Regions from separate parts of the Homo sapiens genome. Here all the other regions are reported to be linked to region 7. The links are microRNA targets in miRTarBase. Many come from high-throughput screens and were not tested one by one. Region 7 holds a microRNA gene; each other region holds the end of a gene's coding sequence. Distances are from middle to middle.

Region 1 (4,850 bases), 14 Mb from region 7:
AGCTGGATGTGGTGGTGCACACCTGTAATCCCAGCTACTCATGAGGCTGAGGTGGGAGGATTGCTTGAGCCGGAAGGCGGAGGTTGCGGTGAGCTGAGATTGCGCCACTGCACTCTAGCCTAGGGGACACAGGGAGCCTCCGTCTCAAAAAACAAAAAACAAAGCAAAACAAAACAAAAAAAACCCCACAAACAAACAAAAATCAAACAAAAACGCTACCTTTTATATGACAAAAAGGAGTAAACTTCTATTCATATTCGCTTGTATATGCATAAATAAACTTTGGAAGAAGACATACATAAGTAAATAGTAAGAGCTTACTTGAGGTGTGGGGACAACTTGGCAGATGGAAGCAGGAATGGGAGGAAAATTCACTCAGTCTCTTGATGTATGTTCTGTTTTTTAAACCCTGTCAATATATTACCTAATTAAAAACTAAGTACACAAGTAAATATTACTTGGCATTTGGCTCATTGATAGAATAGAATTCCTGTTACCAAATGTCATCTCTCAGGTATTTTTCACATATATAAAAAGGAATTTTAGAAGAATTTTAGGAGTCAAAAATTAGAAACTGAGTTTGTGAAGTGTATCACGGTATGCAGTTATATTTTTTCCCATGAAGTTCAAAGTCAGAAGAATTTTGAGTACTTTGTTGTTGTTTCAAAAAAGGTAGAAAGTTACATTTGGCTTAGCAGTGACATTACATGTGCATGCGCGTGTGCGTGCACACGCACACACACACACACACACCCTCCTCTAGTAGATAACTGTTAGTATTTTGCCATTGAAAGTAATGGCAAAAACTGCAGTTACTTTTGCACTAACCTAATAACCTACTACCCTTTAGCTATGTAAATAGACATATTCTGCTAACAAAGGGGAAGCAGAAATTTGTGTAGCACCATTCATACCTATTTTTATTTTGATTCTGTAATCACAAATGACAATTTTTACTTCATGTGAACTGTTAGGTTTTGAACACTCAGTAACTAAACTTTAGAAATTTACGTCAATTCTTCGCAGTGTCTTTTAATCAAAATAACAGGTGCTAGTTACGATTTTTGAAATAAAATATAAATCTAAGAGTTGTAAAATCTTTAAGGTACAGAGTAGGTGATGTGTTTTAAAGAAAAATAATTTATAAATGACTTTGTAAAACACAAGCCCTTCACATGCTGTTAACTTTGGAAAAGTCAGGTCTTCTCCTAACAAGGCTTTTATTCTACTTCATACTCCAAACTCTTAAGGTTTTAAAATATTCAACTTGCCTTTCTTCTTTTTTGGGGAGTGGGGGTGAGCTTGCCAGCTGCTTAGAAGCCAAGAGTTATCCAGTCAGACCTGAATGGAAAAATCTATGATTTGTTTATTTCATAGTTGAAGTTCAAAAGCAAGAGACAATTTAAATAATAAAAGAGTAACAGGAAAAAATGCAAAGAAAGAAAACAAATCAGTAAGAGTTCAGAAGAACCTTCAAGAATACTTAATTTGGAAAATGTTATTGGTTTAGAGAATTTGACTGGAAGAAAACAGCTGGGCAGAGTTCAAGGTTTTAAATTAAAAACAATCTAACAAGGTCTATGGGGATAACTCTCTGAGCCATATTTTGGAGACCAGATTCATTTCTACCAAGTAAAAGTAATAGCAGTCTAAGCTAAAAAGGAAATTCCTCACAACTGAGGTAGTTACTAAGTATCAGCACATTTTCCAAGTTCTCACAAGGCCCCTTAGCTATTTACAATCTATTTTCCCTTATATATAAATGGAGTGCCTTTTCAATTTTATGTCTTCTGATTTGTTTTAAAAAAAAAACCACTTATACACACCAGCCAGAATATGCCTATTTTATTAACATCATGCTTTAATAAATAACTGGCTACTTCTAATAAAATTAAGCCTCTGTTTACAACAGCCCCCAATATTCCATTTTGACCACTCTGCAGAATTTGGTGTAAAAAGTTGAATGAAATGTAGACCCTGAGCTATCAAGTAATTATGTTTCAATATAAAAATAGAGAATTACTCTTACAACTGAAGATTGAACAATAACACAAACAACCTCTTTGTGGGTTTTAGGTTCGGTAAAATTAGTTGGGATCTTAATGGCTGTCTAAAGCAGGAAGAGACAGAATTTTAGTCTTTCTGAAGACTTCTGGGAACTCCTTTGAAAGTGATTTGTTACATTATCAGAGTTTTATGAGCTATCATTTGGTAAGGACACAAGGAAGGGATTCCCAAGGCAGTTGTTAGTCTTTGGCCTGGGACAACAGATATGGCCATGGCCTTTGCCACTTCACCCACGTGGCTAAAGGTCACCACTAAGATGTAGTATTCTCAGCTCTACCTACTCCCACCCCACCCCATCCCCCAAGAAAAACAACACATACAAAAATCTGGACACCTAGTTCTCCCCTAAGTGGGCTCCTTGGCTGATATCTTGGATCGTAGCACATTGCTGTGAACCATGGCAAGTCCTTTGTTTTACTGATAAGAGGGGGCTAGGTAAGAAAAAGACTCAAATGAGACACCTTATACTCTCTTAAAACAAAAACTGGGATCCCAAAACAAATGGAGATACACATGCACAGACAAAAACTTTGCCCGAGTGTTGACAGCTATTCCCTGAGCCCAGGCTGTACCCCAGTTCTGGCTAGCTCTCAGACAGCTCCCTGTACATAATTGGGTTTGAAATCTCGACCACTCTAACAAAGGATATTAATTCAAATAGGGTCAGTGTGAACATGAAAACTAGCACAGGGTGGGCTAGCTAACCTGCCTGGTTTTAAAAAAAAACACCCCTAAACCCAAGTGTGAACATGTGATAACTGGGACATCCTGAATGCTTTCTATCTTTCAAGGGGGATGATATCCAGAATCTTTTTCTAAATGGGTTACATTTTATGTATAAGTGGGTTCAAGAAATGGACCTATAGTGATCTTAGCTTATGTAATTCAACTCATTCAAAGCAGTAGTCTGCAGTCTCTTCCAACTATCACCAATAAATGAAGTACACATAACCTCCTTCTTGGATTGATGCTTTGAATACAATCTGACAAGTGGCTCAGAAGCCTGCTTGTGCCCTCACATTCTGTCTTAATAATAATTTAAAAAAAAGAAAATCACCTCCACGTCTCTCCAGATAAGGCAACTAAAATAACAGGGAGAAATGGAAATTTTACTGCTTTTTGGGCTTTTTCTTTTAATAAGATAACATGATAAATAAAACCTGCTTCTGTACAGCTATTTAATATTTCAGAAATACGTACATGTTACGTGCCAAGAAGGGACCCTGGTTTGCTTGTAAGAAACAAGGCGAGATCACAGTTGGAAAAAAAAACCCACAAACGAAATGAGAAAAAAACATACAAACAAATAATAGAGTGATAAAATCACAAATGCACAACTAACTATAGTTCTGTACCTACACTGTTAGCCACGTTTAACATGGTTTGGGGGAGCAGGAACCAACTCAATGCACAGTCCCTTTTCCTCCCAAAACTGAATGAGAAAACAAAGTCAGCACTTCTTAAACCAGTGGCCACATAGTAAAAACTGTACATTGTTGTCCATTCATTTAAAAAGCAAAGTCACTAGGATGGTAGAAAAGTGATAACTGGTGCCTTTTAACTTTTTGATGAACACTTTTTCTCAGAGTTTGAGAATTATCTCCACTCTCTCTGCATAACCAGGAACAAGATGCAGAAGACAGTGAGGAGGTAGGCCTGTGCCCCAGGACGGACACCAGCACTGTCGGCTTTCTCATTGGCACTCTTCCCAGCATGGTCAGTGGCATTGTAGTCAAACTCTGAAGGGCACTGCTGATACTCACAGCCACTTCCACTTCCTTCTCCACTACTTTCATCACCTAGTTTAAAAAAAAATGGAATAGAAATTTCATTCCACTTGTTCTCATCAGAAGACATACAAGAGCAATTCGTACTTTCAAACCACAAATGCTTACTGATATCAAAGAAGTCCACGTCGTTCCCATTGTATGCATTCTTCATCTTGCTGGTCATCACTCGAAGAGCCATGATTTGACGAAGGATCAGTATGTCTGGTTTGCTGGTGTCAACCTGGACCTCTGGGTTGTTGCCCTGGTTGGCTAATCCATTTCCTGTCACTGCAAACAGGTACCTGGAATGTAAAATGACCCCAGTAAGATGATTCGTAAAGCGAAAAGATTTTATCTGTCTGCCTCCCAAAGTGCTGGGATTACAGGCGTGAAGATTATGAAGATTATACAAGAGGTTATCAAATACTTCTGCTAGATTCTAGTATTTCCACTAAGCAAAATTAGATGGAAGTTCTTTAATTCCTAATGAACTCTAATCTTTCTTGTTCCTGTGGATTCCTCATTTCTCCAATTTGATGGAAACCTTCTTCAAAGCTATCACAGCACTTTTGGAGGCTAAGGTGGGTGGATCACTTGAGGTCAGGCATTCGAGACCAACCTGGCCAACATAGCGAAACCCTGTCTCTACTAAAAATATGAAAATGAGCCGGGTGTGGTGGTGTGTGCCTGTAATCCCAGATACTCAGGAAGCTGACACAGGAGAATCACTTGAACCCAGGAGGCGAAGGTTGCAGTGAGCCAAGGTTGCACCACTGCATTCCAGCAGCTGAGATTGCAGTGAGGTTGCAATGAGCCAAGATTGTGCCACTGAATTCTAGCAGGGTGACAGTGATACTCTGTTGGAGGAAGGAAGGAAGGAAGGAAGGAAGGAAGGAAGGAAGGAAGGAAGGAAGGAAGCTAGCTATCCCTCTTGAGGAGGATGGTGGGTTGAAGTAAAGAAGTATGGGTACTGGCTGGGTGCGGTGGCTCACACCTGTAATCCCAGCACTTTGG
Region 2 (4,523 bases), not on the chromosome of region 7:
GAGGGCAGAAAGGAAGCGCGGGAACGTGTGCCAGCTCAGGCATTTTTTTTCCTTAAGCAAACAAGGCCTCTATGATTTGTGTTTTGTCAGGCTGAACTTTCCATATCAGGAGTTTATTTAGCTGAGCAGCCAATTCTGGTAAAAACACTGGAACATGTTAAAAAGGAACGGGTAGGAAGGAGAGTCAGACAGAACAAACAGGAGAGAGCATCTGCCTGCAGCCGGTCCACGCAGTGCAGCTTGGCCTAGACCCGCTGACACAACACCCCCACCCCTGCCAGCTCTCTTTAGGGGCTGACCCAAGGGCCAGGTGACGCTGGACAGAGGTGGGGAAGTCAGCGTGGGGGAAGGAGTCTGGGCTGAAAGGGTCACAGCCCTGGGAAAGGTCTGGTTCCAGCCCAACCATGTAAGTCACTAGAGGCTGTTAGGACAAGTCAAGCCGAGGTTGCAGTCCACCCATGCACTAACGCCCCTGAGTCCCTACCACAATCCAGAGTCCCCTCAGAGACAGGGAAGCTGAAAACATGTCCCTGCTGGAACCCAGGTCTCGGGGTAGGCGGATCAGGTGTGGCTTTTTTTTTTTTGAGACAGAATCTCACTCTGTTGCACCCAGGCTGGAGTGCAGTGGCGTGATCTCAGCTCACTGCAACCTCTGCCTCCCAGGTTCAAGCCATTCTCCTGCCTTGGCCTCCCAACTAGTTGGGATTAAAGGTGTGTGCCACCACACCTGGCTAATTTTTCTATTTTTAGTAGACACGGGGTTTCGCCATGTTGCCCAGGCTGGTCTCGAACTCCTGACCTCAGGTGATCGCCCTTCTCGGCCTCCCAAAGTGCTGGGATTACAAGCATGAGCCACCACGCCTGGCCTCAGGTGTGGCTTTCAACCTGGGGGCCTGACCCGGCATGAGAGCCCTGCAGGGGACTGTCCTGCTGTTTTCTCACCTGCACAAGGTGGCCAACAATACCTGCCCACAGAAAGGAGCAACTAGTGGCTTGCCTGGCATCCAGCTGGTGCTTAATAATGGCAGCTCTTATGACTATGGAAGGCAACAGCTCCTGTGTGCAAGGAACTTGTGTGTCTTGTAGAATCAGGGCCACACGGCCAAGCAAGAGAGGCCGGAGCAGCTGGAGAGGGACACCGTCACCATCGATCTGACCTTACTTAAAATGAGACAAAACCACAAGGTATTCATGATTTGAAATTTTTATTTTCTGAAATGAAACAATTGTACATTGTACAAACCATATCTACTGATGGAATAAATAAGTGAAAAATTATACTGCTGTACAACACACCAAAAAAAAAAAAAATTCTTGAAAGGGGAAAAAATTAGGTAACGGTGAAAAAAGGTCTTTATGCCTCTAACCAGGTTCTTGGCGATAATGAACATTCCAAACCATGACACCGTTTGCTAATGGGAGGTCACCACCCTAGAGGAATCGGTCCACAGCCTTCCGGGTTGTGGGTGTAAGTGCCAGCACTTTGTGGAATGTGTAGCCGCAGCTTCCCCGACTTCACGTTTTGGGGGGAATTAGGTTTGCCCTGGGAGCCCTTGAGGCCACGGGGCCTGATGTCCACGGAAGGCTTTTGCTCGGGATCCCCCGCCCCCTGGCTCGAAGCTGAAAGGTCTTAGATTCTGTGGTGGGGGGAGGGCGAGGGGTGCAGGGTGGGTGGGGGGCAGCGGCTCGAGGAGCGACTGCGCCAGGGAAGGAAGCACATCGGATTTTTGCAGTCTTGTCATTCTGCGTGGAAGGCCTTCTTGGCCAGCGTGGAGTGCAGGGCTGCTGGCGCTTTGCCTGGCGTGGCCGTGGTGGGGCCCAGCTGGTCCCAATCGCCGGCCCATTCCTACCTTCAGGCACTTCAGAGAAATACTAGTGACAGCCTTGGGACGGTGGACGTCGTCTGAGTCCTCACCTGCGCCAACTCCCCTTGCCTGTCCAGAGAGGCTGCGGTCAACGGCAGGGCCACCTACGCCTCTCTGTTTCTGTGGATGTGTGTGTTTCATTCTCCTTCAGCTGTCTTGGTTGTAGCCTCTCGTTTCCCAAAAACAGAGAAGGAAATAAATATCCAAATTCATCTCTCACCAAGATGGAGTTTCGCTGCAAAGAAAAATGTGACTCTAACTCTACGGAATCTGGAGGTAACGCCGCCTCGAGATGCGTGGAGAGGAACCGCATCAGGTAGGTTCTGCGCCAGGATGCAGGACACAGTTCTCAACAAAACTGACTGCCTAAGGGGCAAAATTGATAAGTACAAGGATTTTTTTTTTTAAGACAGAAACCTTTCGGCATTGCTAACTTCAACATTAAGATTTTCAAAGTTGTGGTTTTTTTTTTTTCCCTTATTTCAGGAGACATTTTGCATGAGGTATTTGAAATTCAGGAACATTTTGATTCTTCTCGAAGTGCAGGAAATAGACAGGATCCCTTAAAAAAAAAAATAAGAGCCTCACCCTCAGAAACTCTTAGAAAATGGAATCCAGCAGACACTTCCCATGATGGTCAGGAGAAAGAGCCACACGTCAAAGGTGGTACCTGAATATGCACCAATTAGCCCCCAAAAACAACAAAACCCATGACCCCACCCCACCCCCAGTAACACACAACTCAAAGGGAGTCAGAACTCCAGTGCAGTAAAGAAAGCTTAGGAAAAGGTTTAAGGTCTGAGGAGTTCATATATTAATTAAGAGCAAACCAGGCCTCAGAACCAAACGATTAGGCAGTTCGTCCAAGGGGGCGTCTCCGTTCAGTGAGAGGAAGCTGTTCCAGCGAAGGTGGGGGATGGGAGGGAGGGGAGATTGCGTCTCTCCTTTCTGGAGGGTGTGCAAATCTTTCCAATTCCTCGACGCCTTGTTTGTGGCCTTCGAGGCCCGGCCATCAAGGCCCACTCCCCGGTGGGGACAGACGGCATGTTCTGGGGATGAGACACGGTCCAGCTGTTGGCTCAGAGTCAGAACAGCCTGAGAATAGGAAAGCACGTGGATTCTGACCACTGCGATCCTGCCTCTCCGGGGCACAGGCTGGGGCGTCGGGGGAGGCAAAGGGCAGCAGGTGACCGTGGATTTGAAATCCAAGCGACGTCCTATGAGAGAAAGTTCAGCACCAGCTAATCCTGCCGCCGGCTCCCAGCCTCCCCGGCCCACTCAGTGCCTTAAGGAGACAGCCTTGCAGTCAGCCAGAGAAGCCATTTCGTATTCGGAGGTCTGGGAGAAAGCAGTGATGGGGGTGGTGGTGGTGGGGGCAATAGAGAGGAAGTGCCAGAAAATTCCAAGGGCTTTGCACGTCCATCTGGGCCATGGTGGGCTTGGAGACGCCCAGTCCTAAACGCCCCAAGGAGGGGAGAGCACAGCGAGTGCCCAGCCTGATCCAAGGGGCCGAGCCCTTGGGGACTGTGCCCCAACACCTGCGCGTCCTTGGGCCCTGGTGCCTGGTGCTTGGGGCGTGCCTAAGGTCCCCCTGCACCTGCAAACCAGGTGGGCTAAGGAGCTCCTTCGCTCCACCCTGCCTGCTCCGATGAAGTCCTGGGGCAGGGAGGAGAGCGGTGAGTAGGGTGGCAGCCGCCGCCCGAACCAAACCAAGAGGGCACTTTGCAGAGGGGGATGTAAGAACCACCAGGATACATGCCAGAGGTCACCTCAAGGGCACAAGGCACAAAAAAAGAAAGCGGAAGGAATCGGTTGAACAGTGGAAAGCCCCGCCAAAAAGCGTTCCTGATCGGTACCACCCTCCGATAGCTTATATCGTTACATAGAGAAGTGGGGGGAAAATACAGCAGCAACACAAATGGAATCCTGGCTTCCGAGACAGTGTGCAGACACTCCTGAGCTGTCAGCCCCGCCTGCCTCCCCAAGGACAGTCCCTTAAAGGTTTGAGTGTTTTGCTTCACAGCAGAGTTCTTCAGTGTCTGAGAAGTGACGCCGTTCTGGGTCTTCTTGGATTTGCACTTGGTAAACTTGAAACGTTAGTAGTTCTGTTCGCACCCAAGAGGAATCGCTGGGGCAAAGTTGCTCTAGAATTAATTGCTGATGTACCTTCCATGGAACATGGATCGGAGGCTTTAAAGCATCGTCTACATCTCTTCGGAGTTTTGTTGAGAGGCCTCCAGTTTCATCTTTTTAGAGGGTGGCACTCCTTCCAAATCCTTGGGGAGAGGAGAAAAGGGGAACACAGGTTAATGGGCCAGGAGAGCAAGTTAGGCCAGGCGTGAGGCCGAAGGTCAGCCAAGGAAGGAACCGAGCGGGGGCGGCTTTGTGGTTCAGACCAGCAGTTCCAGACCCGAGGCCCAAGCGTGGACTCCAGAGAGTTTGAGGACCTATGGAGACCCTCACACCCAAACTCTTCCTGGAGCTATGGAGCGCGGTGTCCCCTGGCCCCTGCCTGACCCTATCACATGCCAATGGCTGGTAACTCGGGAGCATTTCCTACACTGCTGCCTTGGACCCTAGGCTCTCCCCACTCATTCAGACTGGACCAGAAGTTGCTGTTATCAATCTTCCCATCTATGATTCATTGCTAGGGTGATT
Region 3 (4,850 bases), not on the chromosome of region 7:
AGCCTGTGGAAAGGTTCATCCTATTTTTATGAATTAACTTTTTCTGAAGTTGTAACATTTATCTAAAGTTATGTGAAAAAAAGGGGCTTTGTATCTTTTTAATGAAAATGAATGGTACAAAGCAAAATAACACAAATGATTAGAAAAGTTCTATTAACAAAGAATAGTTTGCAGTGTATTACTGTTCAAATTCAGTTATAGTTACTTGAGATGAATATATGCTGCAATTTGAGCTATTTATTTTGGATAACGAATACCTTTTTAAGGAAGCCCAGGTCAAGCATCATATGTAACATGTAGTTAATATTCTCATATTGAAAGCTTGAGCTTGTATTTGTTGTTACATATTAAATGAGATAGTTCAGATGGTTGTCACAATTGAGATTATGTGCAGGTTAGGTAGTATTTTGATCTCAGATTTTATAGAGCAGGACTAGAACCTTGGTGGCTGTTCATTTCAGCCCTCTTAAGGATGGAGGTTAATTTTTCACAAGAAACCCCCTACTGCTATTTACCTCTCCCTTCCAAAAATGTTTTCTTAAGGGTAGTTTCAGTTCTGGATCATTATCTCATTACACTACTTGGGAATTCTGGTACAAAATTTCAGAGGACTGTATTTACACCTCTTTAGTGTAAACACAGTTATTGTGATAATGCACACAGAAGGTATTTCTACCCCTTCTCTAATAGGTGAGCTGATTCTTTACACACTTGGGCAGAAGTAGAATTCCCAGGAATGATGATTTACAGTGGACAGGGACCTAATGCAGCAAAGCAACCAGCAGGAATTCACAGGAATAGGCTTTGCCCCTTGACATTTAATACAGGGCAAAGTATTATCTAGTAGGTACCTGCCAAATGGAGAGTTGTACAGTTTTACGGAAGTCAATCACAATCTTCAAATCGGATATTCTGTCCAGGTGGGATGCCATAAGATGTGACAGACATTCCCTGAATCTTCGTTCCTGATTCTAAAATATGATTTTAAAGCTGTTATGTATTACAAAGAATGACAAGCAGCAGTTAAAAATATTTAGTAAACCCAGTTTATTTACATAATACATATTTTGTCATGCAGCTTACTGAATTGCAGTTAGTGTAATAACAAAAAAAGACAAGCACTGTCTTGCTATTTGAAAATGGCTTAATATAGAAAGATAATTGTTTCTTAAATGAGTTAACCACAACCATATAAATTGCTAGACAATTTAAAACAGCCATAGATAATTTTAAAATGTAAAATCTGTAGGCAAAAAGCTTTTATAGTTCACACATTGGTAAAATTAAAACCAGTCTTTTTTAGTAATAAAACTGGATAGTATATTTTAATCTTACTTTAATCTATAAAAACAAAAATAACTTAAATATACATCATTACAAGGCTCAGATTTGTAGACAACTTTAAAATATTTTTTAATGTTAACAATGTCTTCAAAATTTTACCAGTAGTGCTGTGCACACAGTAGGTGGTCATTAAATGCTGACTGACATACAGAAGTGTTTCTAGTTAACAGCAATCCATATTCATTCATTCATTCCCTATTTTATAATAAATATATCATAGCAGTGAAAAAATGAGAGGATAACTTTCTTACAATATTTAACATTTTCATACAGAGTTGAAATGTTTACATGGAATAATTTTCCCTACAGAAAGACCTGTACACCCTTTAAATTCAAAGAAACACGGATTTAAAAACACAGTATACTCTTTTCATGTTATTAATTCAAATGGCAAGTATGTATTCATATACTAATACAGGGACTGCAAAAATTGAAATGATTCAATGTTTTTTTATTTTGAGAAAGTTTTATAATAAAAATGGCTCCACACCTAAAATAATGATTTTCCCCTCATTTTTAACTTAAGTGTAACTACTCAGTGTCTTTTGTTTGGCCAAAATGACAAAATATCTATTAAAAGGCAATAAAATCATGTAAGCCAATAAGGGATGTTCTAGGAGAAATATATCCTACTACTGTTGCACCAAAATCTTCTATCACTTAACATATGGATCAAAATTTTAACCTTATAAGGTAAAACAGCCATTTTCAAAGCAGCCTTCCATCATAACGATGGGTAAGACACGGTATTCCTTTACTGAGCCTCCTGGGGGGAAATTCTCTTTGCTGAGATACTATACTAGCATGGGGAATTTATATTCCAAAAACACTACACTGGAAAAGAAACACAACATTTTACTGATGTATTAACTGAGGCACATTAGTGACTTTCCAAGTATCATATGCACAAAAGGCATTTTGGGAATAAGCTTCATCATCAATTAACATTTTTTCTGATATTCAGTAATTTTACTGTTCTGAAAATACACCAGTATTTAAAACAGCTCATGTCAACTCATGAAGAAACTTGGGTAATATTTTATACTCCAATAAACAATGTAAGTTTTTATGAATGTCTACTTTAAGGGATTTAACTAATGCATATGAAAGACCAAAGAATAAGAGGGCTACAATGTATGATAGGGCAGTGAGTTCTATTTTTTAAGTATATACAATAAAAAGAAAGTTTAATGCTTCAGGCCCAAATATTAAGTGTTTATCAAGATTCTGAGTTATCAATGCAATGCTAACACATGCAGAAACCGAGGACCAGAGCACAGGTGAATAAGATTATTATCAAATGGGGCATCTGCATGACTTTGTTCTAAGGCTTAAGGTTCATTTCAGGGTCAAGACAGGGCCATCTAGATTCTATGGCCTTGCAAGTAGCACCCACAATGCTGGGAACCCCCACCACTGGGATATTCAGGACTACAAATTCAGAGAGTTGAAAGCTCTGGAATTTTGGGATCAAAAACCTGTAATCCACTCACAAGAATTCAGTTATTATATGGAATTAAATAATATCTGGAATTAAAATGTTTAGGTGGCTAATGACTATATTATTTGACCACATAATTTGTTGTCTAATCTTGTACTTAGTTTCTAATGTGATTCTTATCTGATAGAAAATGAGAAGTTCTTTTCCTCTTCTCAACCCTTCTCTCAACTTACTGCAGAAGTTTAAAGCTTTTGTTCTGGAAAACTAAAATATCTAATGTTCTTAGGGAGAGAAGAACCTATAGCTAAAGGATATAATATCTGAAGTGCCAGTTTCTCACAAATCATTTTAGTGATTATTTAAATCTAGTGATTTTAGTGATTATTTAAAATCACTATCCTAGCTTGCATTAAGCATAGGCTGAAACAACACTTGCCTTGATTAGGCACTTAAACTTGACAATTAACTGAAAATAATTAAGCACATAAGATGACTCCATTTTCTAATGGACATGAGCCCTTCCTAAGGAAATTAAGCTGGTGCTAAGTAAAATGAATCCTATTTCAACACTAGTTTCCCATTCATCGTTGTTATTCAGATGTTTCTTATGATTGCCAACTAATTTTCACTTTCTGTACAAGCAGCAAATTAGTAGTTTTAAGGATTTTGTAAAGCAGTTATTACTACAGATCCTTAAGTATACTTTTTTTCCCATTTTTATAAAGCATTACTCATATTAAAAAGGAAAAAGGGAAAACTAATGGGAATCTTAGAAATAGTGGGGTATACAATTCCCCATTATATATTGCTTAACAACTGAATTCACCAGGTGGCCATACCTAATTCACAAATGTGAAACATAGTCAGGACAAGGCTTGCTATGTCTGTACTGCATGACATACACTGTTGACTGATGCCACCAATATAACATCACTACTGCAAGGATATGCCATATTTGGTGGCTTGATCCGAGGTAGTTTAGTTGTCCTGGAAAGAAGGTAGAAAGAAAATGATAATGATTTCAATATGTTGACATTAAAGGAAAAATATATTTCTTGGAAGTATAGCTTAGCAGAAAAATTTTCATAGTCTCAGAGTGCCTAGAGACTAACTGGAAGCTCCAAACGTTTTTAGAAATGGATCAATTCATATTTGGGTCTAATTTTAAGGTTTTATTTATTAAGTACACAGGTAAACTTTAGAAATGCTATTCCAAGTGTGTTTTCAAAATCTAACTTAATTTCAGGAATTTGACCTTATGCCTCCCACATCTCAACTCACATTTGATGGAATGAACAACAACAAAAAATTATTGAGAGAGGCAAAAGAAACCAGATGTTAAAAATCATGGTGTGATTTAGGTATAAATCCGCGAGAAGGAGATATACTGCTGGGTTTAGATATAAACCTATTAGAAGCACTTTTTATTTCAAGCAGGTGTGCAAAGAAAAAGTGCTGACCTGAATTCTGTGCTCTCTAACTAATGGAATAATCTGCAGGATGTAATTAGTAATGGATTAATTAACTAAGGTTGTTTAGTTCATATACAACTTAAGAGAACAATTTAATCTCTTTGTGGTCAAATGTTAAATTCTGAGAAGATTAAACAATTAACATACGGAAAACTTCTTGATCTCTCTCAGTAAATAAAATACAGAGCTATAATAATTTCAATGTAAATAACATACTCATGGTGCTTCTATGGTCATATAATGTAAATATTCTCTAACCTCTCTTTTTTCTTACCAATCAGTACAGTACATAGATTTTAAAGTGTATATCAATAAGATTCTTAGCCTTTTTTGTACCATGGACGCCTCTGGCAGTCTAGTGAAGCCTACAGACCCATTTTTTTAAAAAACAAAACACAGAGGATTACAACAAATATTGATTATCTAATACAACTATCAGAGATCCACTCAATTCTATCCATGGACACCTTGGGGACCCTTGGACCCATCAAATGCCACTGTGTTGTGTATACATTTTTAAACATTCAACCTGAGCTGAATGAAAGCTTTTAGTTTAAAATTTATTTTATTTCCCAGTGGCCAGGTCATACATG
Region 4 (4,850 bases), not on the chromosome of region 7:
ATCTGTCTAGTCTTGAGCTTTTTTTTGGTTGGTAGGCTCTTAATTACTGCCTCAATTTCAGAACTTGTTATCAGATATAACAGACATTTACAGAACTTTCCACCCCAAATCAACAGAATATACATTCTTCTCAACACCACATTGCACTTACTCTAAAACTGACCACATAATTGGAAGTAAAACACTCCTCAGCAAATGCAAACTAATGGAAATCATAACAAACAGTCTCTCAGACCACAGCGCAATCAAGTTAGAACTCAGGGTTAAAAAACTCACTCAAAACCACACAACTACATGGAAACTGAACAACCTGCTCCTGAATGACTGACTATTGGTTGAATAACAAAATTAGGGCAGAAATAAATAAGTTCTTTGAAACCAATGAGAACAAATACACAACATACCAGAATCTCTGAGACACAGCTAAAGCAGTGTTTAGAGGGAAATTTATAGCACTAAATGCCAACAGGAGAAAGCAGGAAATATCTAATATCAACACCCTAACATCAAAATTAAAAGAACTAGAGAAGTGAGAGCAAGCAAATTCAAAAGCTAGAAGAAGACAAGAAATAACTATGATCAGCGCAGAACTGAAGGAGATAGAGACATGAAAAACCCATCAAAAAGTCCAGGAATTGAGGAGCTGGTATTTTGAAAAGACTAACAAAATTGATTTTTATGTATCTGCTTTGATTGCCCTATAACTCTAGTTATCTGCAGAATTGTACTGTGGCTGCCGTAAGTCACCTCCTCAACACTAATGCCTATGTGGACGTTTGTGAATTGAAAAACAAAACAGTGAACACTAAATTTGTAAGGCAAGTTGCTGTATCCAGCATCTCTGTTAATTAATCCTCATCTTTAACTTTGGAATGTAGTACAGATAAGTTGTTTGAGCCCCTGCTATCACAAGACCATTGTGGATGAACTTCCATTCAATACATGAGCAATGCACAGAAATTGGAGAAGACACTGCATTGGCAGTTTCAATCAGCAGGCTAATGGCATTCATTTATATGTGAGCTGATTTTGGTAAATTGCTTAGCTTCCTTGGGCCTCAGTAGTATCACTGGGAAGTGGCAGTAAAAATGACTGTTTTTCGTCCTTCACAGAGTTTATCAGAATCAAATGAAAATTGATATGTGAAGGCATTTTTTAAAGCACAACGTGCTTCACAAATTTGAGTTTTTGTAGTAATTTTAATTAAGTGTGTGGTGTCTTCAAAATTTCTTTCAGGCAAGGTTGCAGGATATAACTTATTTGTTGAAGTTCTGTTATCTCTCTTGGAAGCATCACAGACAACATGAGTCATTGAGAGAACTATTATTATAACATTCACAGTAAATAATAATAGCACTAACAGTGCACACAATAAATACTCATACTTTGGGGGCTTAGAACAAATCAGAACATGGATCCTTAACATGAAGTTGCCCGTAGGCAACATTTGCTGCATGTCTCTCCTTCCTCTCTTCTTACATATGAGCTTTATTTTCCTACAGGTGTTTCTAGGTTTTCATTCCTCATGATCTGGGATGGCTTTCTATCCAAGGATACTGGCGTTTGATGTCCTACTTTGTAATTTTTATTAAGCTTTTCTGCCTTTAAAGTGTCATGTACTATCATCTCAAAAGAGTTTAACTAGTAACCTGATAAATGTCAAACATATAACAAATTCCTATTATTAAGCTGAATTGAATATGGTATTAATGGGATATCTTGACTTTCATGTCATCATATCCTAATGACATTCTATTTGGTTAGAACCTTCTGAACCTTCCTCCAGAAGTAAGAAATGAAATGATCACAACTTTAGCTAGAAGACTTTTGACCTCAAATCTTTAATTTTAATTAATTTTTAACCCACTTAAAATTTGGGTTAAAAATTAATTAGTTGCCAACATATTAAAATATGAGCTTATGTTACAAAGTCCCAGCTTTCTGACTTCTCTTGAAATATCAGCACATTTAGCAAGATTGGGTCCTCCCTAGCACCAGCAGCAGCCACTGAGGAGCAGCTGGCTCCTTTGGAAGGGCAAGCTGTGCTCAGTGCACTAGGGTCCCCACGTGTTCCACTTCATTTAGGTAAGTCATCTGCCTGGCCCCTGTAGGATCTGAGTTTATGGCCCTTGTTGAACCCACAGAAATAACCTAATTAAGTCCTATCTCATAACCAGTTAGTCACGGGTGAAATCATGAACAGATGGTTTAAGGTGAACATATGTTGTTGATCTGTTTCTCTTACTTCATTAACCATTTTGCCAGCATTTGAAACAGTCTAATCATATGTCAGAAACCATAACTGGAGTAGAAGTTTATAGGGTGATAATCTAGAGTATCTTTGAACTGTTTATTTTTAAATTCCAAGTGAAAGCTGCTTTGAGGTTTGATCTACAGTTCAAGGTAGAATTTTACCAGCTCAGTAAATGTGAGTTCTAAGCATGTTCCGAATTCTGTGCCTCACACATTTCTGTGATGCCAGAGTATTAGAAGGGACATCTCCAGTAGGATTTCTATGACATATATTTATGAAGAGTAAAAGGCCTCCCATGAAATGTCACCATTAGTGATATGTTAGAGGCAAGGATGAGGGGGCCTGGAGATGATGTTGGTAGCACTTTGAAGCTTCCAGAATTTTCTTAAGGCTTCACAAACTCCTTCCCTCATTCCCTATGCCTAAGGTGAATAAAATTGATGCAGGTAAACCTAAGATAAATAAAAATGAAGTTAAGTTAATAGCAGTGGGCAATTTAGCAAGAGAACTATAACCAGTATTGTTTGTGAACAATTCCCCATTTTTTTCTTTTGATTTCAAGAGCTCCATTTTTCTTAAATCAAAGTGTGACTATATAGGGGCCTGAGATTAAGGTGTGAGCCTACAGAAAGGGGTTCAAAGCACCTACTTGGTATATGTTAGTGAAATCGATAGATCAGAAGCACAAAAAGAGTATTTATCATTCCACATGGTCTGAAACAAGACACAAAGCTAGAAGTCCCCCATATAAAGGTTTGGGGTTAAAGCATTTCTATGTCTGTGCCAACAAGGAGAACTTCCAAGTATAGCCATGGCCATAGGGTGTGACTGGTAAAAGATCTGGGCATCTTGGATTCAAAGATCTTATCATTGCTCACAGAAAGCCCTTGTACATGTCTGGCTTTGGGCCAGGGCAGGTTAGCCTAACCATCAACAACCTTCCTAATCATCACCAGTAAACTGGGAAATTATCCACTGGGATAGACACAGAGTGCTCTAGGGAGAGATGGTAGAGCAAATACCAAGAGAACAACTCATTTGACATATAGACAACCAACTATCTCGTGCACAATTAGTAATTAAAATTCTCTCTCAAGACCCATGTAACCTGGCGAGTTATTGGGTCAATAATATACCATGTGTGAAAATATGAAAATCATCACAAAAGAGCATGATGATGGAGGCTCCATACCTCAGTTTAGCATTTTCTAGCTATGTTGACTCAGATCAAATGTAGTACAATCAGGAAAAAAAGGATGGATAACAATAACTGTAATGACGGTCACAGGAAAATAGCAAATACGTAGGATGAGGGAAGTTACTTTTTCTTCTTGATGAACTCACAGACAAAGTACATGGTAAGATGGCACTCTGTGTCATTCCATCTGCCAGAGCTCAGCATCTCCACACAGTCCTCATGACCATAGGGGTCGCTGGGTTCCCCCTCATTCCAGTTGCTATAGTTCTGCAGTGGAGTGTTGTCTGTGAACATGTACTGTCCCTCCCTTTCAAGGTCATTCACGCCAATGAACACCCGAAAGAAGCCACTCTTGGCAACATAGTCAGCGATGAGTGTGTTGGCAGCTTCATCCTTGGGCATGGCTAGCATTCCACCCCGAATCCTGCAGTGGGTTAGGGATTCCCTGTAGTTCTTCTCTTCCTGCACGATGTAGTAGAATTTCTCTTCAGTTTCCCTAATCCCTGCTATCACTGCAGGGAGAGAAAAAGGAGTATCATTACGTATCTCAAAAAGATAAAAGGCAACAAAATTATATGATATTGCCAGATTTACATTTATTTATTCAATATTCAAGAATTATTTTTCAAAGCCCTATTATGAGGTAGTCACAGATTTAATTACCCCCACCTCTAGTTAGCAAATAGAGAACACATATCTACCGTTTGTTCTCCCTTCCTTTTCTCCTCAACTTCTCACACACCTGGCCAGCACAAAGTTGACAAAGACATGTTACATGAACTTTCAGCCAGCCCATCTCATACTATATTTCCCAACATAGTTTATGCTTTAGCTATACTGGTGGCTACATGAGCAGGCCCTTTTCTCTTATACTTCCAAGCCTTTTATGCCTAGAAAGTCTTTTCTACCTGGTAAACTTCTACTCATCCCTTTAGATCTCAGTGGAAATATTTTCCCCTATAAGAAGTCTTTCCAATGCCCTTGGATAGACATGGCAGTCACTCTCCCGAGTTTCCATTGCCCCTTTCACTTCCTCCTTCTAGCACTCAACACATTTTAGTCTCATCGTTTGCCTGCATTTCTCTCCTACTTACCTGTGAATGTCTTAAGGACAATGACCATGTCTTTGACACTCTTTGGCTTCAGTGCCTGGAATACTTATGGGAATGGTAAATGCTTATTGAAATGATGCAGGAATAATACAGATGTTTGTCCACATTGGACCAAATTCCTGGGCTGTGAACATGTACATGAATTGGGATTGTCCATATTTCATCCCAGGTACAAGAGGAAGACTGAGCTACTGAGTTAGCTTCAGGACAGAACTGGAGACTGAGAATCACCCTTCTCTCATAATATGGCATGTATGTTTTGGGTGTCAGCGGCCTCTACATAGGC
Region 5 (3,501 bases), not on the chromosome of region 7:
TTGCTGACAAAAATTTATTAATAATGATCCTGATTTTAGAATTCACAATCTCCTGCATTCAGCAGCTACTTATTAAATTACTATTCCTTAGTCCAGGTAAAAATTTCATGAAGAGGCCCCTAAAAAAAGTGTTTCATTTAAGTATAAAAAACTGTTTCTATATAACTGAACATCCCTGTACTTTCATAAAATATATATTTAAAACTTTTTTCAGAATTATATAGCTAGCTGTTTTTCAAATGACCCCACCACTTTATCCATCAATATGCTTCTCTCTTCTCTTCAGCTTAAATTACAAAAGGTATCATTTTAATTATTTTTGCCAGCACCAAATCCTCTTGGCCCTATTTCCTCTGTTTTGGAAACTTTCAATGCTTAATGATTCCAACTCTAAAAAACTGATTATAGTTCAAAGCATTTTTACCATGTAGGAACATACTTATTAAACTACTTTTCTACTGGTTTGAAACTCATCTATGTTCATCTTTCCTTTCCTGTTTAAATTGTTTGATATCTATTGATGGTCATTTAAAAACTTAACACTATTAATATGTACTTTTTTGATGTCTTTACTTATGGAATTATGGTACCTTTTGCCAATAATGAGAGGGTCTATACTAAAATATAAACTTTGCATTGAATTTATAATTCTGGTTTTTCTTCTAGGTCATCTAGGAGTACAAGTACATCTACTTCTCAGTCTTCAATTAAAGTACTGGAGCTTAAATTCCCGGCCTCCTCTTCACTAGTAGGCAGCCCTTCTAGGCCATCTAGTGCTAGTAGTAGCTCTAGTAATGTTAAGAGCAAAAAGAGCAGCAAATAAACATTTTAATCTCTTCTGAAAAAGTTGTAAACACAAAAACAAAAATATACTTTAAAATACAAAACGACCCAACACATTTTATCTAGTGGAAAGTGTAAAAACTTAGTGGTAAGTGTAAAAACTGATAGTTTTAAAAAAAAAGGAACGTTCTCATTTTCTCTACTGTTTTCTTCATACTGAAGAAATTAATAGCAGATTCTTGACAAGGCTACATGTTATACAAGCATAGGAAAAATGCTGTATTTCACTGTAATTCTGATGTTCGTAGTGTTAGAAAATAGTTTGCTTCATTATTTCACGAAACTACACTCACTTCTAATGTAACAATCTTTCAAGAAGAAATTTCTAAAGATTTACTGTACTATTATGAGCGTATTGCAATGTGAAAATCTCATTTACCCTACAAGACACCAAAATTAGGTTTTCTTTATTCAAAGTAACTATTTCTCAGACTTTTGGGGAGAAAAATTGTTAAAGGCAGTTTCTTCTTTTGCTATAATTTTTAACCAAAAAATAGCATCAACCCCTACCCACCCCACCCCCCCAAAAAAAAACCGGTAAGAGAAACACTGTATATCAATTTTAAAATGCAGCATAAATTTAGAAAAATCACTTCTGACCTTGAAATAAATCACTTCTGACCTTGAAATAAACGCATTAAAGATTTGCTTTCAGATACAGCCAACCAAGTATAAACAATTTTGAAATTTTCTTGATTTAATAAACGATTTAATGAAAGCTAGGTATGACTTGATTTGCAATAGAAATTTCATTTACAGTTGGAGGTAGACTGCCAAATGTAGTAGTTTTTCCAGTTAACACTTCATTATAACATGTGCCCAACACTTTGTACTCTTGGAATAGAGTGTGGAATATTATAAAACTGGATTTTAAATAAATGTATTAGAATTCACGAATGTACATGTGTCTCCTTCAAACCTTGGGAAAAAATGCTCATTACAACTGTCATTATTTTAGAACTGTTGTTTGTACTTCTTTCTGAAAAGCAGTAGTGGTAGTGAATAGTTCTCCTGATTATTTTTTGTTTTGTTTTAGAAATAGGAAAAAGGCATAGCAAAGTCAAGAATAAGGTGGGCGAAAAAAAAGGTAGGTAATAAAATTTTTGGCTAAAGTACTGCTCTAATGCATGAGATTTATAAGACCTAAAAACTAATTAAAGTCACTTTGCTCATCAAAGTTCTTATTCTCAGCCCTGTGCTAGTTTGGGAATTACTTAAAACTTGAAGTAATATTAAACACTCTTCTATGAAGGTAGAGGTTGTATCTTACTAGCTCTGTAACCTTGGATAGTTACTTCCCTGTTTTCCTCATTTGTACTATAGACACAGAAAGTTACCTACAAGTTTACCGAATTTGATAATATAAAAAAGATGCACAGGGCTTGACACACAGAAATTGCACTATATAACTTCTACTTACTGAGTTGCCACCTGGAGCTTAGCACAGAATTTGTGGAATGGTTTGGTTCTTGGGCCAGCATACGAATCTACATTTAATCCTTAAATAACAGTTCTAACAACTTCAGTGTAGTAATGACAAATGGTGCGACAGGGGATCAACCTATCTCCAAATCTGGACACTTATCCTCATATCCAAAAGTCATGCTTCATCTGCTTATGGAGACCAAGATATGGCAATATATGATCTTGAGAAAAATTACTGAAGATGTCGCTATTCTTGACAATGTAAATCCCCAATAATTTTTGCTGTGATGAACTTCCTTAGAAATTGGTTTGTATACTCTGCTTAATATGGCATAAACTGCAATTACTTTTGCGCCTACCTAATAAATTCAGGCAGCCTACAGGATAAGGTACTATTCTCTTACATTGAATGGGGTGTAATAGCCATTCTGACTGATGAGAGATATCTCATTTGGTTTTAATTTGCATTTCTCTAATTAGTGATGTTGAGTATTATTTCATACGCTTCTTGGCCATTTTTATCTCTTCTTTTGAAAAATACCTATTCATGTTTTCTGCTCACTTTTGGATAGGGTGATTTGGTTTGCTGAATTCCTTGTAAATTCTGGATGAGTCCCCTGCCTGATGCATAGTTTGCACATTTTGTCCCATTCTGCAGGTTGTCTGTTCACTGTGTTATTTCTTTTGCTGTGCAAGAACTTCGTAGCTTACTTAAGTCCCATTTTGTTTTTGTTGTGTTTAAGACACCAGTCTGGCTGTCACCCAAGTTGGAGTGCAGTGGCACAATCAGAGCTCACTGCAGCCTCGAACTCCTGGGCTCAAGCGATCCTCCCGCATAGCTGGGACTATAGGCATGCACCACCACACCCAACTTATTTGGATGGAGTCATGCTGCGTTGCCCAGGCCAGTCTCAAATTTCTAGCCTCAAGCAATCCTCCTCCCTCAGCCTCAAGTGCTGGGATTACAGGCATGAGTGACTGTACTCAGCCCCTCTTGCTTCCACTTTTGAGGTCTGAATCATGAATTCTGCCTACGCCAATGCTGGTAGGTTGGCAGGGGGGTAAGGGATGATAAATTATGAAATGGGTACAATGTACATCATTTGGGTGATGGTTACACTAGAAGCCCAGACTTCACCACTACACGATAGATCCATGTAACAAAAATGCATGTGTACCCCTTAAATTTATATGAATTAATTAAGGAAAAAAAAATTTTTTAAATGTTGTGTT
Region 6 (3,000 bases), not on the chromosome of region 7:
GAATAAATATCAGGTGGAGCCTACTACATTGTAGTTGAATACACTGTAATCTGATACATAGTAAACTATAACACTATTATACATTGTAGTATAATATGCTGTAGCAAAGATATATACAACTGGTATAAAGTTACAGATGGCTCAGAAGATGAAGGTTGAGGACTGTGGCCTTAAAAGCCCATCCTGGGCCAGTTCACAACCTCTCTTCCTTCTCCTCCTTCAACAATAATATTTACTGAGCTCACTCTGGGCCAAAAACCTACACTAAGCACATGACCTGCATGATGCCTTTCAATCTTAAAAATCGCCCTGAGCAGGTGTAGGTTCTGTTATCATTCCCATTGTGCAGATAAAGGAAGAGGGACTCTTTGGCATAATAAATGTCATGCCAAAATTAGTAGAGGGCATAGCAGGAATTTTATTCCATGCAGCCAACTCTGGAATGTGTAGGATTGGACCTCTACACCCCATTTTTCTCATTTGTGTCCTTCTCTTCACCCTTACAGGCACCCTGCTGACAGTCCAGTTTGTCCATGCTGTGGTAAACAGAATCATCCCAACCACCAGTGGCTTCATTGCCCCCACCAGGCATGGTTATCTGATCCGAGAGAATTTCCAGTGCCTTTCAGCAAAAGCCTCACCGCAGGACCCTCTTAAGAACTTCAAGAAGGCAATGTGGATGGTCAAATCCAGGCAGAGAGAGGAGCTAGTTGCAGCTGCAGGAGCTCCCCAGGACTTGGAGTCAGAAAGTGCCCAGGGAAATGAAACCAAATCAAACAAATGCTCACAAGTGTGCCTGATAGTGTAAAAAAATAAAAATAAAAAAACCCTGTGGGGGTATGGGGCTCCAGTGAGTTAGCCCCATTTAATCTAGTTAAAGCAAAAAGAATACGTTTGCTGGTGTATATCTGGACCCATGGCTTCAGATTATGGCTTCAGACCTTGTCTCTTCTCATCTTTCCATTATTCTTTCCTCTTTTTCATTTTCATTCTCAGACTTGCCACCCCCAGGTTAGCAACATGGTGGCCAATATGCTGCTGTCTCCAATTTCAATAGAAAAGAGAGCTTCTCTTTCCCAACAGTCCTAGCCTCAACTCTACTGGTCCCAATTGGCCCATACGCCTAGCCCTAAACCAATTATTATATCTGGGAGAATGCAGAGCTCTAATCGGCTAGACTGATCCAATGTCCACCACTGGGACTGAGAATAGAAGAGATTACTCCTGAGATGCAAACTGGAGTTCTGGTACCAGATGAAGGGGGAACGGATGAATGTGAGATACAGCAAATCACTGATGTGGACCACAGAACCTCACAGTTTATAAAGCTGTAGGTGCTGTCATCTGATCCTCATCACAACTCATACTTTAGGGAGGGCAGGAGTTTCTGTATCTATTTTACAGATGAGGAAACTGAGCCTTGCGGAAGTAGTTATAATTTGATTCAGGTCACAAGTCCAAGGTGCAAGAGCTCTGAGAGTGAGCCTTCTGTCCCATTCCTGTTAGACCTCACTCCAATTTCAGTCTGCAGAGCACAACCATCTCTTCCACAGGCACCACACTCAAATGCTCACAGGAGCTAGTGACTAATCTAGACACTTCCATGCACCTGGGTGAGCAGCAGGGAGAGACAGAGACTGGACATGTGGAAGGCAGAGATTGTGTCTAGGGTGGGTATGAGCAGCCTGACTGTAGCCCAGAATCACCATGGCCAAACAAGCCCACTGCTGTCAGTGCTTCCAGTTGTAATAAGCAAAGCCAGAAATCCAGACTTTTATGCAAAAATGTTCTGACTTTTAAAGTTGGCGATTGGTTGAATTTATATCTATAGTGCATTTGGCATGTGCGTCTTTGGTTAATGAGCTGACTTCAGGACTCACGCTGGCAGTAAAACAATCAACATGTTATAGTTCATCCCTCTCTATTCCTTGGCTCCCAAACTTTTGGGATAAAGATGTGGGTTTTTAATCTTAAAAACTGGAGGCTCTTGGAAGTAGAAAGAGCTGCTGATCTCTCCCTGCTTTGCTTTTGAACTGTCTGCCTTGTGCAAGTTCAACAGTCAAACTGTTTTCATTCCACTTAAGTGGATCTTTCTTCTTTGCCCACAGCCTTCTAAAAGCCCTTCTCAGTCTTCTCAGGCTTTTACTTTAATGCTAGGATAGTCTAAATCTTCAAGGTGGCTATCCCTTCTCCCCTCCGTGGAATTCCTGATAGAGTCTCAATAAAAGCAACCTTAGAAACAGAGGCTTTTGAGCTGAACAAGACCCTACTGCTGTCTTATTCATCCATTTTCCAAACCAGTTTTCCAAGGCAGGTTTTGGTAGTTCTGCAAATGTTAGTGTCAAATTTCATTTAAAAATATTTTAAACTGTAATTTTAAGATGTATGCTTGGATGTATTGGGCAGCAGCTTCTAAGGTGTTGAAGATTACTAAGGTTGGTGCAAAAAGTAACTGTGGTTTTCGCCATTAAAAATATTAAAAATAATGGCAAAAACTGGCTGGGCACAGTGGCTCACACCTGTGGTCCCAGCTCTTTGGAAGGCCGAGGCAGGTGGATCACCTGAGGTCAGGAGTTTGAGACCAGCCTGGACAACATGGTGAAACCCTTCTCTACTAAAAATACAAAAATCAGCCAGGCATGGTGGTGAGTGCCTGTAATCTCAGTTACTCAGGAGGCTGAGTCAGGAGAATCACTTGAACCCGGGAGGCGGAGGTTGCAGTGAGCTGAGATTGTGCCACTGCACTCCAGCCTGGGTGACAGAGCAAGACTCCATCTCATAATAATAATAATAATGGCAAAAGCCTCGGTGGCTCACGCCTGTAATCCCAGCACTTTGGGAGGCTGAGGCGGGTGGATCACTTGAGGCCAGGTGTTCAAGAGCAGCCTGGTCAACATGGTGAAACTCTGTCTCTACTCAAAAATACAAAAATTAGCCTGGTGTGGTGACGTACACCTGTAATTCCAGCTACTTGGGAGGCTGAGGCAGGAGAATGGCTTG
Region 7 (4,850 bases):
AATAATCATAGTATTGATGTTATGGAACACCAAGGAGAAGAGTAAACAAACAACACTCCAGGACTTTATCTCCTCTTCTGGTGAAGTGGTTCATGAATTCTGGGTTGTATAAATGGTAGTTGTATCTTATTAAATGAAATTATGACCTTGGTATTTTTCTCATTTGATGATTAAATATAATTTAAGGAGATGCGTATAAGTGACAACATGACAAGGAGTGAACTTGTGATGATTAATTCTATATTTCAACCTGACTGGGTCATGGAGTGCCCAGACATTTGGTCAGTCATTATTCTGGGTGTTTCTGTGAAGGTCTTTTTGGATGACATTAGCATTTAAATCAGTAGAATGAGTAAAGCAGACCACCCTCCCTAATGTGGATGGATGGGCCTGCACCAATCAGATGAAGGTTTAAATGGAACAAAAAGGCTGACTCTCCCCTAAGTTAGAGAGAATTCCTCCTGCCTGACTGCCTCCAAACTGGGGCATCTCATTTTTTTCTGGCATTGTACTCAAATTAAAACATTAGCTCTTCCTGGGTCTCAAACCTGCTGGCCTTTGGACTGGAACTACAAAATGGTTTGTTCTACTGCTTCTTTGGCCTCTGGACTTGGACTGCAACTATACCATCAGTTCTCCTGGGTCCCCAGCTTGCTGACCCATCCCCCTGCAGATCTAGGAACTCACCAGCCTCCATAGTTGCCTGAGGTTATTCCTTGCAGTATCCTTATAATAAATATCTTAAGGGATTTATTTTAAAAATAGACTTCTATAATAATTATATACATATATATTTGCTCAATCATTGTCCTGGGTGTTTCTTTGAAGGTCTTATAAGACCTGATCCAGAATCTGAGGGTGCCTGGGGTACCTGTGAAAAGTATGTCCTGTAGGTTTTTTAAGCATTTATTCCTTTTTCTCCACAAAAGGACTACAAAACACTGGGAACAAGATTTGAGGTAGGAACATGATCCTTTTTCTGCATCCTTTTCCTTTTTCTGTGAATGTCATATGTATGTGTGTGTGTGTGTGTGTGTGTGTGTATATATATATATATATATATATATATATATATATATAAAGGGATATATAAACCCCTTTGTATATGTAAAGTTTCCAGAAGTATATGTACACACATGTTCATACATATATGTTCTCATCACTTCATCCGTTCCCATAATAGTTAAGACCAGCTAAAAACATATAAATAGTTCAAATGAAAGCAAATTTGGGGTATCATATCAAACTCCACTGATATGAGATTATCATCACGGATACACAGGAATATTAAAGGGAATTTGAGTGTATCTAAGCCTTGAGGAGATCACTTCATAAGAAAGATGGTTCATGGAGTTTGGAGTTCAGCAGGGAAGGGCAGGAGGATATTTGTGCTCCCTAAAAAGAAGGCTTAAATATTGTGAGGAAAGAAGATCAGTGTAAACTTCTCAGGGGTTTATAAGGCAAGAAGTGTATTTGGGTTGTTATAGAGAGAAAAGACTAAGAGGTACAAGAGAAAAAGAAGTATCATGTTCCTACCTCAAATCTTGTTTCCAGTGTAGTCAGTCATTTTGTGGAGAAAAAGCAATAAATAATTGAAAAACCTACATGAGAGACTTTTCCCAGGCACCCTCAGATTCTGGAGCAGATCTCTCAAGAGGTACTTCAGAGAGTACCTGGAAATGGCTCATCACTAAAGGTTGGGTACCAAGGCTCAAGGGAGGGCAGTATTGTCACTGAAATTCCACTCGTCATTACCAATGCCACCACAAATGTTGTCCATGTTGCACATTACTCTACTCAGAAGGGTGCCTTACAAATATTAATCTATTAAGTAACACCTTCCTGAATAAGGCACTACACATAGTATGGCTGATGGTGGTGGCACTGACCATCTTAATAGTAACACGGGGAAACTACAGATGAGGCTATTCCCAGAGAACCTCATCCTCTAGGTTTTACCCCACAGAATTCTCTTTAAAGGGTTGTATGAGTTGACCCATCACTGAGTGGGTAGTTCTGACTTGTATCTGTTGTGCATTATTTCACTCCAAAAGGTGCAAAACATATTTCTAGACACATGCATGGCACTTCTTGAAGTGAAGCACTACACACAGCACAGCGGAAAATGTCCCTCACTCCGCCATTTCAGTCAGAATCCCAACACTCTCAGTCCACTAGGAATAAGCAGAATATAGTCAATAGATTAAAAAAAAAACAAACCCTTTTTCCTCTCCCTTTTGTCTCCTATGTCTTTCACTGAATGCTTATTAATTACTTCACCTGCTGCACATTTAATGAGACAGATTTTAGGAGAGAGAAAATTTTCCCTCTTCCTCCCAGACTTAGCATACTTCACTAAATTGTTCTGCTAATTTTCAATTTAATATAGTTGGCACATGAACAACTACTTCATATGCCTCAAAAGCCAGTCATTACATAGAAAGGACCACTCAAGTGACTCATCATATCTAGCGATTGCAGGCCAGATAGAGCTCAGTTGAAGCAGTGCTGGAGAGTTCTCTTCTTTCCAATTTGAATCTTCTTTATATCATTGGGGCCTTGGTTTGGCATCCTCTGTTCAGAGATGAAGGCCTACAGCAGCAGAAGCAGTAGTCACCACAGTCATGCACTTGCAAACCAGTGTTTAGACCAAGAAATATCTGCAACACATGTGAACACATGCATGCCACACATGCAAATAAACATGTGAACAATGAAACAAACAACCCCAAAACGAATGCTCACAAAATAGGGCAATGCAAACACAAAGACAAACACTGCATGATCTGACTCATACGCAGAGTCTAAGAAAGTTGATCTCATAGGAGTAGAGAGTAGAATGATGGTTACCAGAGTCTGGGGAAGGGAAGGGAAAGGGGGGTTGGGGAAAAATTGGTTTATGGGTACAGAGTCACAGTTAGGAGGGCTAAAAGTTCTGATGTGTTATTGTGCAGAAGAGTGATTGATTATAGTTAGTTAACAATATTTTATGGTATATTCCAAAATCACTAGAAGAGAGGGTTTTGAATGTTCTTCCCACAAAGAAGTGATGGACGTTTGAGGTAATGAAAATACTAAATCCCTGATTTGATTATTACACAATGCATGTATGTATCAAAACATCTCACTATATCTCATCAATATTTACAAATTATTATGTGTCAACTAAAAAAACAATAAAGGAGTAACAATTTTTTTTTTGAGACAGAGTTTTGCTTTTGTTGCCCAGGCTGGAGGGCAATGGCACAATCTCAGCTCACTGCAACCTCCGCCTCCTGGGTTCAAGCGATTCTCCTGCCTCAGCCTCCCACGTAGCTGGGATTACAGGCATGTGCCACCAGACCCAGCTAATTTTCTGTATTTTCTGTAGAAGCAGGGTTTCACCGTGTTGACCAGGCTGGTCTTGAACTCCTGGCCTCAGGAGATCCACTGGCCTCGGCCTCCCAAAGTGCTGGGATTACAGGCATGAGCCACCGTGCCCAGCCGGGAGTAACAATTTTTAAGAATGTAAAAATACTACTGAAAATTCTAATTAACACACATTTAAAAACACCATTCAAAATCGGAATAAAAAAAAACACACAAAATATACAAAACACATCCAAATATACAAAATTCTACAGGAAACAAAAACCCTAAAAAAGCAAACAAGCAATACAATAACAAAAATCAAAAAGAACATACACAATACAAAAACCCCCAAAACATAAAAACAAATACACTAAAATGTAACTTTACTTTCCAATAATCCCAAACAAAACAGAGAACGAAGTTCAAAGGAAATCTAGCACGTATCAGGGATAGACGACACTGCACTGAGAAATGCTGCGAGTGTAGGAAGGAGAGCAGTGGACACTGAGAAGTAAACAGATGAGGTATCATAATAAACAATGATAGAAAACAAAGTAGAACAGTTTCCCACCTCTTCACTACAGCCTGTATTTCCTCATGACTTTGGGTGAAGTGAGGTATTTGGCCACTGCAAAAACAAAATCCACACACATCATCAGTTGCCAACTAGACACCAAGAAAGACATGATTTGAAAGAGCTTTCCTGGGAGATAATGTAGCAGCAGACTATCAAATTCTATCCCATCCTCTGATATGGACATGTAACATTTACACCTTGCTTCCCAGGTCGTGCTTCCTGTGGGCTCCAGGAATTGGTTCTCCCTCCCCCTCTACTTTCTCCTCCCCCTCCCTCCCCTTCTCCTTCTCTCTCCCTCTTCCACCCTCTCCCTTCTCCCCTTTCTCCTCTTCCCCTCCCCTCTCTTTCTCCTTCTCTCCTTCTGCCTCTCCATACAGATATTTTTATATCAAGGTTCATAGCTACGTCTTTTCTAGTAGTCAAAGCCAAAATAGCTATAAACTGGAGACAAATGGCCATTAACAGGTGAATGCATTTAAAAAAAACTGGAATATCCATACAGTGGAATACTACTCATCCATAAAAACAAATAAATTATTGATGCAAATAACAATGTGGACGAATTTCAAAATAATTATGCCAGGAGAAATAAGCTAGGCCAAAATAAACAGTATATACAGTATGATTCCATTTTAATAAAAAATTTTGGCCAGGCACCGTGGTTCATGCCTGTAATTCCAGCGCTTTGGGAGGCTGAGGTGGGAGGTTCAGTTGAGGTCAGGAGTTTGAGACCAGCCTGGCCAACATGGTGAAATCTCGTCTCTACTAAGAATACAAAAATTAGCTCAGCATGGTGGTGTGCGCCTGTAGTCCCAGGTACTCGGGAGGCTGAGGTAGGAGAATTGCTTGAACCTGGGATGCAGAATTTACAGTGAGCCGAAATCACGCCACTACACTCCAGCCTGAGTGACAGAGAGAGACT

What was found. Region 7 holds the annotated microRNA hsa-miR-507 (UUUUGCACCUUUUGGAGUGAA, at 2,042-2,062, opposite strand). A microRNA usually pairs through its seed, bases 2 to 8, with sites in the 3' UTR of a target mRNA and lowers its output. Matches are read on the target gene's strand: a 7mer-m8 pairs with bases 2 to 8, a 7mer-A1 pairs with bases 2 to 7 and ends in A, and an 8mer does both.
Region 1: miRTarBase lists GPC4 as a target of hsa-miR-507. The part of its 3' UTR that is shown has no 7-base or 8-base seed match.
Region 2: miRTarBase lists BCL7A as a target of hsa-miR-507. Seed matches in the 3' UTR shown: 7mer-m8 at 3,938-3,944, 7mer-m8 at 3,276-3,282, 7mer-A1 at 2,358-2,364 and 7mer-A1 at 1,726-1,732.
Region 3: the mRNA of PAQR3 is a reported target of hsa-miR-507. The part of its 3' UTR that is shown has no 7-base or 8-base seed match.
Region 4: miRTarBase lists COLEC10 as a target of hsa-miR-507. The part of its 3' UTR that is shown has no 7-base or 8-base seed match.
Region 5: the mRNA of CCDC39 is a reported target of hsa-miR-507. The part of its 3' UTR that is shown has no 7-base or 8-base seed match.
Region 6: miRTarBase lists NWD1 as a target of hsa-miR-507. Seed matches in the 3' UTR shown: 7mer-A1 at 1,778-1,784 and 8mer at 2,440-2,447.

The regions. Positions count from the first base shown.
Region 1 is chrX:133,299,204-133,304,053 of GRCh38, forward strand. GPC4 (glypican 4) reads right to left here. Exons shown (of 9, transcript NM_001448.3): 8 at 3,963-4,138; 9 at 900-3,866. The coding sequence ends at 3,664. Among named protein-coding and RNA genes, the nearest start is that of TFDP3, 83 kb to the left of the region's middle.
Region 2 is chr12:122,058,710-122,063,232 of GRCh38, reverse strand. It overlaps BCL7A (BAF chromatin remodeling complex subunit BCL7A), which reads right to left. Exons shown (of 6, transcript NM_001024808.3): 6 at 1,189-4,141. The coding sequence ends at 4,070. Among named protein-coding and RNA genes, the nearest start is that of LINC02985, 2.3 kb to the left of the region's middle. RefSeq lists a silencer at 36-330.
Region 3 is chr4:78,916,910-78,921,759 of GRCh38, forward strand. It overlaps PAQR3 (progestin and adipoQ receptor family member 3), which reads right to left. Exons shown (of 6, transcript NM_001040202.2): 6 at 1-3,772. The coding sequence ends at 3,630. Among named protein-coding and RNA genes, the nearest start is that of PAQR3, 20 kb to the right of the region's middle.
Region 4 is chr8:119,104,914-119,109,763 of GRCh38, reverse strand. COLEC10 (collectin subfamily member 10) reads right to left here. Exons shown (of 6, transcript NM_006438.5): 6 at 1,309-3,964. The coding sequence ends at 3,573. Among named protein-coding and RNA genes, the nearest start is that of COLEC10, 40 kb to the right of the region's middle.
Region 5 is chr3:180,612,243-180,615,743 of GRCh38, reverse strand. CCDC39 (coiled-coil domain 39 molecular ruler complex subunit) reads left to right here. Exons shown (of 20, transcript NM_181426.2): 20 at 667-1,736. The coding sequence ends at 823. It also overlaps a transcript of TTC14 not described here. Among named protein-coding and RNA genes, the nearest start is that of TTC14, 12 kb to the right of the region's middle.
Region 6 is chr19:16,814,522-16,817,521 of GRCh38, forward strand. It overlaps NWD1 (NACHT and WD repeat domain containing 1), which reads left to right. Exons shown (of 19, transcript NM_001007525.5): 19 at 507-3,000. The coding sequence ends at 518. The region is part of intron 2 of LOC124904648 (a long non-coding RNA gene); the gene reads right to left. Among named protein-coding and RNA genes, the nearest start is that of SIN3B, 13 kb to the right of the region's middle. RefSeq lists a silencer at 2,959-3,000.
Region 7 is chrX:147,228,961-147,233,810 of GRCh38, forward strand. MIR507 (microRNA 507) reads right to left here and starts at 2,117; the gene lies at 2,024-2,117. It overlaps MIR506 (microRNA 506), which reads right to left and starts at 1,883; the gene lies at 1,760-1,883. All of the region lies in intron 2 of LOC105373347 (periphilin-1), which reads left to right.